Regions from separate parts of the Homo sapiens genome. Here region 2 is linked to region 1. The links come from fine-mapping of genetic effects on gene expression. Tissue or cell type: skeletal muscle. Region 1 holds a variant in brackets; the other region holds the start of a gene. All regions are shown on one strand. Distances are between the middles of the regions.

Region 1 (5,145 bases):
GGGTTGCAGTGAGGTGCAGTGATTGGCCAGCCTGGATCACATGCACATCTCTGGAACCAACCACCTGCTCTCAAAAGCACTAGTGGGTGCCTCGAGGAGTACTGGGGTCCCCCCTAAGAAGAAGGAGGAAGGATGCTGGGGAGGCAGAAATGAAGGGTGTTTACCTTGGCATCTGATTGCATAACGTTCTGTTATGCAGTATCAAGATGTGCTTGGTGAGCAGTTAAGTGAGTTACAGGCGCTGCTCTTTGTGGGGAACAGCACATCCTGAAGTGAAAATCCATGTTCCCTGCACTTGGCCAGCATGGCCTAAGCCTGACCATCCCTGATTGGAGAGGGTGGGAGAGCCCTGGGTTTCTGCTAAGTTCCAGGCAGTGATGGGGTGACTGAGGCTGTCTGTATACCCCACTGGAGATGCCTTTCTCTCCTAGGGAACTGTTTAATTATGACTGTTTTTGGTTGTAAGCCACAGAGACCCATGCCCAGGTGCTTCAACACAAAAGCATGATCATTCATGGGTGCATAGAACTGGCCAGTCCAGGAGGGCTTGCTTCAGGTAAGGCTAGATCCAGGGTCTCAACATGGAGTCTCGATTCCCCCCGCGAGTGGAGGCTGCTGTGTTTGCCCTGGGGCAGATATGACTCTGGAACTAGGTTCAATATTGACATGAGTTCCCCTAGTTACTACACAGGAGCGTCTTGGGTCTCCTTGGGGCCTGAGGACATTTCTCCTTTCCTTTCCTGGACTCCCCAAAAGGCAGCCAGTCAGGGGTCACCAACTTGAAGCCTGATCTGGCCTGCTTTTAGTGTTGCTTTTTTGCCTTTAGAATGGTTTAAAAATTGAGGCATTTCGCATCGAAATCAGGATTTCTGGCTTCCCTTAGGCATTTGGGAGCACCAGCAGAATGGGGTCACTATTGTTGCATGAAGACAACACCTCTGCACCCCTGGATGTGGCCACGCCAGTCCCTACCCCATTGACTTGCGCCCAGCCCACATTACACATCCTCATGACCTGCGTGGCAGGAGTCTCACTGACATGGCTCTGTCAGCAGTGGCTGGTACCCTTGTCTCCTGGCCTTGCTTAGAGTTGGGGCTCATCTCTGCTGCAGTAACTGAGCCAAGGGGTGGTTTTGTGGCCACAAGAATCATCTTTATGCAGGCTCAGCAATGCAGGGCCAGGAAACTTATATCTACGCCAGCCTCAACCCCAAACCCAAGGAAGAGAGAAAGTGTCATCTTTTCAGATACATCCTTCTTCCTGCTGGGAGAGAGCCTTGCCCACCTTCCTGTTGGCTCTCTGTCCGCTTCTCAGGTATCTGAACAAAATAGATTGCTTTGCACTCTGCGTCAAGGTGTGTGTGCACATGTGTGCATAAGAGACCGACTGATTGGAAGGAGACGTTCTCAAAACTAATTGCTCCCATATCACCAGGCATTTATTGCTGAGAGCAACTTGCAATATTTTCAACTATCTTTAAGTGAATTTCTAGCTTTTCTCTTAAAAACTAGGTGTTATCCTACAAGTATGCTGGGATAAGCTGCCCTGGCAGTCTTTATACATTTATTGTCTAGCCCCAGAGAAGGACACAGAAGCCTTTTACGGAAGGAAGCTGGAACTGCCTGTTCCAGAGGCGGGTGGGGGGAGGGGAGTCTGCTATCAGCTGTCCACCCTTAACAGTGGGGGTGAGGAACCTCAGGCCCTTTCAGTTCTGCTCTTGAGAGTGCTCTCTCCCTAGGGAAAACCAGCCCAAACTGGCTTAAGCAACAAAGCAAATTCCCTGGGTCCTGTACTAGGGATGGCTGAAGGTGGGTGCTGCTTCAGATATGGCTGGATCCAGGAGCTTAATGTCCTCAGGCCTCTCAACTGCACCCAGGCCTCTTGACTCTGCATCTCTTTGCATGCTGACCTCATTCTTTCTTCCACCTGGCGGGAAAGATGGCTGCCAGCAGCCCCAAGCCTATAATTTCAGGATTCACACTCTAAGAGATGCTTTTCCATCTCAAATCTCATGGAAGGCTCTGATTGGCCCAGCTCGAGTCACATGCTTATTCCTGTGGGCCACACTGGCAAGGAACTAGGGTCCCGTGATTGACATTCCCTGCAGAAGCCGCAGCAGGATTGGGGAGGGCCATTCCCCCAATGGACAAGAGAAGCTGGACCACAGAACCAGCAGGTATCCATGGTGGCATCTGCTACGGCCGGCTCTCCTCCCATGTGGAGGTCTCGGGGACCCACGTGGAAGCATTATCAAGGTCATTCTTCTTGCCTTCGGGAGGACTGGAATTAAAAATAATCCAAGGAAGGGATTGCCAAGCTTTTGGCTTTTGAATTTCCCCTGAGCCACAAAGGCTGGAAGTGCCTTGGCTTGGGCTTCTTGCATCATTAGTTCATTAATCCATTGTGACCAGGACAGAAGCAACCCACAAGCAGCATTACTGTTGGTGTTTGGGCACCTGGGCCTTGAATTTAGGCCAGGACTCAAACCCCAGCCTTCCTTTCACTAGCTGTGTAACCTTGACCAGGTGACTTAACCTCTCTGTGCCTCAGTTTCCTCATCTGTAAAGTGAGGATAGCAGTGCCTACCTCAATAGGTTGTAGTGGGA[C/T]GAAATGAGGGAGTAGCTGTAAAGCTTTCAGCACAGCTCCCAGAACACAGAAAGCGCTCCATTAATGTCAGTGGTCATTCTGATTACTTAATGCTTCGCATCCAAAGACTCGTTTTCTTCCTGAGGTCGCCTATCCCTGTTTTTCGTTATTGCACCCAGAGAAAAGTAGGTGTCAAGAATTATTGCCCTCTGAGTTGGGTGTGCAGTCTTTCTCTTTTAGAAACTGCTTGTGTGGGCGGGGCGTGGTGGCTCATGCCTATAATCCCAACACTTTGGGAGGCTGAGGCCGGCTGATCGCTTGAGTGCAGGAGTTCAAGACCAGCCTGGGCAACATAGTGAGACCCTGTCTCTACAAAAAATTAAAAAATGAGCCAGGCGTGGTGGTGCGTGCCTATAGTCTCAGCTGCTCGGGAGGCTGAGGCAGAAGGATTGCTTGGAGGTCAAGGCTGGAGTGAGCCATGATCTCACCCCTGTACTTCATCCTGGGTGACAAAGCAAGACCCTGTCTCAAAAAAAGAAGAAAGAAGCTGCTTGTGTTTTCTGGGTAAGTCCACCCATCTGAGGGAGTGTATTCTGAGTGGTATTTCCCTTGGCAGTTAGAAAATGTTTTTTCCCAGAGGTTGAAGTATGGAGAGTTTGAGACTCTTTTTTTCTACCCTGCACTCTCTGGAATTCCCCCTCCCTGCTGTAAAATTTATTGTCCAATGAGAATAGTATAATTGTTTTCAACAAAGTCTCTTTGAGCCAGTGAAACACGATGGGTTTTTTTGTTTGCCTGATCACTTGCTCCAACCAGCAGCATTAAATGTTTTCCATTTGGATAAACTTGCATCGTCAGCTTCCTAAAACCCTGGAGGTTTCCCGTGGGCTCGTTCAAGAACTTTCCAGCTGTTGTTTAAAAGACTTTAGAGCTAGCTTGTTCAGCCTGTGGCCTGCAGGCTGCACGCGGCCCCGGACTGCTTTGAATGTGCTCCAACACGAGTTCGTAAACTTTCTTAAAATACTGAGGTTTTTTGTGTGTGTGTTTTCTTTGTTTTTTCAGCTCATCAGCTATCATTAGTGTATTTTATGTGTGGCCCAAGACAATTCTTCTTGTTCCAATGTGGTCCAGGGAAGCCAAAAGATTGGACACCCTTGCTTTAGAGCATTTGCAACCGGAGTGATATCACCCCCAAGGGGCTGCATATCTGTTTAATGCAGGTATAATTGTGTATCATATATATTGTATACATATGTAATGGATTGGATAGCATGTCCCCAAATTCATGTCCACCTAGAACCTTAGAATGTGACCTCATTTGGAAATAAGGTTTTTGCAGGTGTAATTAGTTAAGGTTCTCAAGATTGGTTATTGGGCCGTGTGAGGGAGGATCACAATTTTTATATATAAAGCAGAAATAGGCCAGGCGCAGTGGCTCACGCCTGTAATCCCAGCACTTTGGGAGGCCGAGGCGGGTGGATCACAAGGTCAGGAGATTGAGACCATCTGGCTAACATGGTGAAACCCCGTCTCTACTAAAAAATACAAAAAATTAGCCGGGCATGGTGGCGGGCGCCTGTAGTCCTAGCTACTCGGGAGGCTGAGGCAGGAGAATGCCGTGAACCCGGGAGGCGGAGCTTGCAGTGAGCCAAGATTATGTCACTGCACTCCAGCCTGGGTGACAGAGTGAGACTCCGTCTCAAAACAACAACAACAGCAACAACAACAACAGGAATGTTCTGGAGGCTGGAAGTCCGGAATCACCATGGAGGTAGGGCCCTGCTCCTTCTGAAGGCTGTAGGGGAGGACCCTTCCTTGCCTCTTCCAGTGTCTAGTGGCACCTCGTGGCTTGTGGTTGCATCACTCCAGTCTCTGCCTCCATCATCATATGGCCTTCCTCTCTCTCTGTGTCTCCTCTTCTTGTAGGGATGCCAGTCATTGGATTTAGGACCCATCCTAAGTCCAGTATAACGTCTTGAGATCCTTAACTAATTCCACCTGCAAAGATCTTACTTCCAAGCGAGGTCACATTTTAAGGTTCCGGATGGACATGAATTTTGGGGCATGCTACTCAACTTATTATGTATGCATACAATAGCTAACCAGATACACAGTTATATCTGCATTAAACAGATATGAAAATCCCTGGTGCCCATCTCTCCTGGGCTGCCCTGCCCTCCCCCTGGGGTTTTACCAAAGTGCCAGACCTGGTGTCCTGGAGAGCTGCATCCCAAAACAGCCACAGTCCTGACGTCAGAAGGTTGTGATGAACCCTGTCCAGGGTGCCACCTGTCCTTCCCGTGAGCTCTCTTGGGGCACGGAGAGTGGAGCTGGCTGCCACACAGATCCTGGGACTCTGAAAAGCCTTCGTCGTTTTGGAGCTGGTGGCTGGGGTTGTCATTTGTGAGAGCAGAGCAGGTGTGGTGTTTTGTGTGATGGCACGAGGGCCATCTGTCCACCCAGCTTCTGCTCCCCAGCCCTGCCCAGCACAGCTCGTCAGGGGAGAGGAGGCGGCTTGCACTTGCGTGTGTTCATGGGCGGTGACTCTTCCGTGGATTT
Region 2 (5,145 bases), 60 kb before region 1:
CACCTGAGGTCAGGAGTTTGAGGCCAGCCTGGCCAACATGATGAAACCTGTCTCTACTGAAAATACAAAAATTAGCCAGGTGTGGTGGCAAGCGCCTGTAATCCCAGCTACTCGGGAGGCTGAGGCAGGAGAATTGCTTGAACCTGGGAGGCGGAGGTTGTAGTGAGCCGAGACTGCGCCACTGCACTCCAGCCTGGGCAACAGAGCAAGACTCCACGTAAAAAAAAAACCCCAAAACCCAAAAAAAGCTGGAGTGAGTGTTGGTGGCGTTATTAATTCCCTTCCCTGGGGCTGGAGGAGGAGGGAGTGGGGTTCTCACTCCCCTCCAGGCCCCAGTTTCCACTTTGAGCTCTCTGTACCCGCAGGGCTGTCACACCTCTGTCTCCCACGCAGTCATTGTCCTCCCTCAATGTTGGGCAGCAGGAGAGGCGGACTTAACGCCTTTCGTGGTGGTAACAGCAGCTAACGGTGTTAACGTTCACTTTGCTCTGTGGCGATGCCTGGGCAGAGCTGGGCATTTCCTGGATGAGCCCGGGTTAGGACAGTCATCCCTGGATCCCATGTCCCCCACCTACTCACCCTTGTGTTACTCCAGGAGCCATGGGCTATCATTTGCTGCCACCTTGCGACAGGGATGGGAACTTTGTGTCCCATTTCCGCCCTTGATTACCTAAGCCAAGAGTCTGCTGGGCACCTGCTGCCTGCCTGCCAGGTCCCCAGTAAGATCCTTCCCAACATGCGGGCAGCTGAATAAGGCAGCCACTGCCCCTGCCCTCAGGGAGCTCACAGTCTCCTGAGAGAGACCTCCAGGAACCCACAGATATATAAAACGAATAAATGCAATATTAGAATGTGATGCAGGCTAGGAAGGGAAGAGAGGTGATTTTCACAGGGTGCAGTGACATACTTGAAATATATCAGGGGTTGTCCATCTCCCTGGCCACCTCTGACTTCCCCTGCTTGAAGGGGTGAATTCACCCCACGGTGGCACGTAGTAGGTGCTCAGTAAATGTTGAATGAGTGAATACATGGATGACAGCACTGTCCAGAGCCAATTTCTTGGGTCTTGTAGGCTAAACAGATGAGGAGTGGCAAGGCAGGACTTCTGGGAGCAAGGTTGGTCCCCTGGGAGTCCTGGGAGGGCTGAAAGGGGTTAAGTGTGAGTTAAAATGAGAGTGATGGACAAATGTCACTCTCCCAAGGGAGGCCCCCTTACTCCCTGTTTTATTTATTTATTTACTTATTTATTTTGAGACCGAGTCTTGCTTTGTTGCCCAGGCTGGAGTGCAGTGGCCAGGTAACAGCTCACTGCAGCTTTGAACTTCTGGGCTCAAGGGATCCTCCTGCCTCAGCCTCTTGAGTAGCTGGGACCACAGGCACGTGCCAACACGCCTGGCTAATTTTTTTTTTTTTTTTTTGCGACGGAGCTTTGTTCTTCTTGCCCAGGCTGGAGTGCAGTGGCGCAGTCTCGGCTCACTGCAACCTCCGCCTCCTTGATTCAAGCGATTCTCCTGCCTCAGCCTCCCGAGTAGCTGAGATTACAGGTATACGCCACCATGCCCGGCTAATTTTGTATTTTAGTAGAGACGGGGTTTCCTCATATTGGCCATGCTGTTCTCGAACTCCTGACCTCAGCTGATCTGCCTGCCTTGGCCTCTCAGTGTGCTGGGATTACAGGCGTGAGCCACCGCGCCCTGCCTAAACTAAAAAAAAATTTTTTTGTAGAGATAGGTTCTTGCTATGTTACCCAGGGTGGTCTCCAACTCCTGGGTTCAAGCGGTCCTCCCGCTTCCGCCTCCTAAAGTGTTTGGATTACAGGCGTGAGACATGGCGCCCGGCCTCTTACCTGTTTTAAATTGTCCTTTCTCTCCGCTGGCTCCTTGAGCCCCTTTCCTGCTTATTTTTCTCTCGTTAGAGTTTTTCACTACCTCACACATCATATATTTGCCTTATTTATTGAGTGTCTGTCTCCCCACCGTAGTATAAACTCCACGAGGGCAGGGATTCGTGCGTGTGGCTCACCGGCGGCTCTCCAGCGCCTGGACAGGGCTGACCCCCAGCAGGCGCTCTGTGAAGGTGTGCAGAGTGGGCGAAGGTGCATGCGCGGGCCGTGGGGCGGGGACAGGTGGAGGAGCCAGTCAGACCCAAGTGCAGCGGGACGAGGGCGAGGTTAATCTGAGCAAGAAAAGCGTAAATTCTGCTTATCTACAAATGTAAACAGTACTGTCGGCCAGACGCAGGGTCCGGGGCGGGTCGGCCCGGACTCAGGGTCTGCTTGGAGGCAGAGCTAGATTAGGGCGGGGTCGTCCTGTGGCCTACCATTCCCCGAGGCTGAGGGCCTTGGAGGGCGGGGCCAGTGAAGGGGGAGGGGACTTCCTGAGGTGTGACCAATCTAGAGAAAGGACTGGGCTGAGGGCGTGGTCAAACAAGCGACATCTAAAAATAAGGGGCGGGGCTAGAACCAGGGGGAGTTCGCCTGGGGCGGGGCCAGAGTGGGGCGGGACCAGTTAGGGGGCAGGGCCAACCTGGGCGGGGCCATGGCCGGGGACGTGGGCGGGACCAGGTCAGGGGCGGGGCCAGGCCAGGATCTCCGCTGTCCCGGGTCCTGGAGCTCTCTCGGCCCGGCAGGTTTCGCTCCCGCCCCTCCGGCCTTCCACAGCTGTCCTGGCCGCAGGGTGTTCAAGGCGGGACACACCAGGCTAGAGATCCGCGATCGGGCCCCGCCTCAGGTACTGCGCTCCAGGCCAGGCGGGCGCGGGTAAGCGCTCAGCTCCCGAGCCAGGCGGGCTTCCAGGGCACTTCCCCTAGGCTGCATTCCCAAAGGCTCCCGAGGGCGAGGGTGAGCAAAGCTGCGGGGACCTGTGTGTGCATGCGTGTGCGATTGCCTCTACGTGTGTGTACGTGTGTGTGCATGTGCGCACGGGTGTGTGTGCGTGTGTGCACGTCTGTGCACACCAGGGGAATTGCGTGCGTGGAGCTGGGCAGGTGCGTGTTTCAGGGTGTGTGTGCAAAGTTGGAGGCGTGTGCAAAAGCAGTCCCGTGTGGGAGGGAAACCTGCGTGTGTACATGTGTGTGATAGAGACAGTGCCTGTGAAATGTGGTGAAGGCTGTGTGTGTATGTCAGGGTGTCTGGGAGGAAAATGGGAGGGCAGGTGCAAGGAGACTCGGGGGTGGGCTGTAGGCCAGCAAGTCTGTGGCAAGCTGCGGGGTGCATGCGTGAATAGAACCGTGGGAGTGTAAGAATTGCAAATGTGTGTGTGTCTGTGTGGGTGGCCGTAAGGCTTCTGGGGGCCCTCAGTGTGAAGGGGTGGGGGTAGAGGAAAGTTTGGGGGTGCTGACTGCTCTTGGAAGGCTGAGCGTGGTCTGGGGCCATGGCTAATGACAGGGAAGCTGTTGGGGCTTGGCCTGGAGTAATTTGGGGGGAATATCAGCCTTCTCAATTTGAAGGCTGGGGAGCTGTGTGGGTGGGGCCAGGGGCTGCCCCTTACACTTGGTGGGTGGTGTCCCTGCTTCCCGAGGTGGGAGCTGCAACCTCACCAGTCACTCCTCGCCCCAGGCTCTGTGCACACCCCTGCCTGGTGACCTCCATTGGTGCTCCAGCGTGAACATGGTGCAAAGATACCAGTCTCCTGTCCGAGTCTACAAGTACCCGTTTGAGCTGGTCATGGCGGTGAGTGACTCCTGATTCTTGGGCCCCCATGTGACAGTTGGAGGGGCTTGAGATCAGCTATGGCGGTAGGAAGACGGAGCTCCTTAGACTCCCAGATCAGAAGGAATTAGTGAGTTACTCAGCTGACCTGGTGGGTTTAACTTCTATCCAGTGACCTCTCTGTCCAACCATCCTATCCTCGGCCCAGTGACCAAAACACAAAGTCTTTCTTCCTTCTCCTTGTTGAAGCTGACCTGCTCCCTTACTTTAGACTCTCCTGATAGAAAACAAAGGTATCAGGGGCCAAGCCACTGCTGTCATTTCATATAATGGCATATCACAGTGATAAATGGAATGGTGGTGATAATGACAACAGCTGTTTATTGAATGTTTACAGCACTGTCTTAACAGATGATGTTTCTTCCAATTCCCGATAGCTGTTATTTTCCCATGTAACCTCCATGAAACTGAGGCTTTGACAGGTGAAGGGATGACACTAAGTTCTGTATCTACGCAGAGGTGGAGTCGGGGCTGAGATCCCCACAAAGGAGACTCTAGAACCTCACATTTGACCACAGAGCCCTCCTTCTGCTCACAGACCCCCTTCCCTCCCCTTTAAGGAAGCTGACACTGGGACGAGAGAGAGAATGAGTGGGTAGGTTTGCTTTGTGATGTACTCTGTGTTGTGCAGCAAGTCAGTTGGAGGCCTAGAATTGGCTGCCAGATCCTTGGCCCCCAGGATCACTGGTCTTTTCACCCTGGGGGCAGAAGCTGGACATAGGTGGATGTGGAATTCCTTCTTGGCTGCATCCCTCTGCCTCTGAGCACTTCACTTCCCTGCTCAGTAACATGGGGACAATGCTACAAGGTTGCGGGGAGGAGTAAATGAGATAGTTCTTGGTGCTCCTTGCTGTGTGCCGGGCACACAGTAGGAGCTCACAAAATATGCTGTCGCTGTTATTACACCGAAGTCTTGTAAATTAATGTATTGAAAGTGTAAGAAACATTAGCATCCACCCCCATCTGTCCCACCCCAGCACTGACTGCTTAACCCCAGCCTTCTATCCAGGGACTTTCATATCTCTTGGTGGCTGTGTGTGCCTGTGTGTCCAGTCCTGTCTTATTCTATGAATCTACATGCGTATATGTTTATTGTCACACAGAGGATTTAAAAGCATCACCAAAATCATCCACATACCTTGTGCTGTTACAGGCAGATGGTTCTAGGACAGCAAAGAGGCAGGAACTGGCTTAGGGTCATATTCTAGCTCCCCAATTGACGAGCTGAGTGACTGTGGGGCAAGTCACTTCACCTCCATGAGCCTCCACTCCCCATCACCAATGGGAATCTCCTGGCTTCCAAATCCTGGTGTCATGCTGTGGATTAAATGAGTCAATGTGTATAAAGCTCCTGGTACGGGGCTGACGCAGATCAAATGCTCACTGAGATCCAGCTATGATCGTTACTGTTTTTGCAAGTGCCTGAGTGACTTTGC

What was found. PIP is the estimated chance that this variant, and not a neighbour inherited with it, causes the effect.
Region 2: it holds the start of SEC14L5, and the variant in region 1 is fine-mapped to the expression of SEC14L5 in skeletal muscle (GTEx, PIP 0.97).

What each region holds. Positions count from the first base shown.
Region 1 is chr16:5,015,545-5,020,689 of GRCh38, forward strand. SEC14L5 (SEC14 like lipid binding 5) reads left to right here. Exons shown (of 16, transcript NM_014692.2): 16 at 1-3,613. Among named protein-coding and RNA genes, the nearest start is that of NAGPA-AS1, 16 kb to the right of the region's middle. The variant C/T (reference allele first, on the strand shown) is at 2,607.
Region 2 is chr16:4,955,717-4,960,861 of GRCh38, forward strand. SEC14L5 (SEC14 like lipid binding 5) reads left to right here and starts at 2,614. Exons shown (of 16, transcript NM_014692.2): 1 at 2,614-2,729; 2 at 3,557-3,670. The coding sequence starts at 3,608. RefSeq lists silencers at 2,499-2,708, 2,507-2,802 and an enhancer at 2,606-3,141.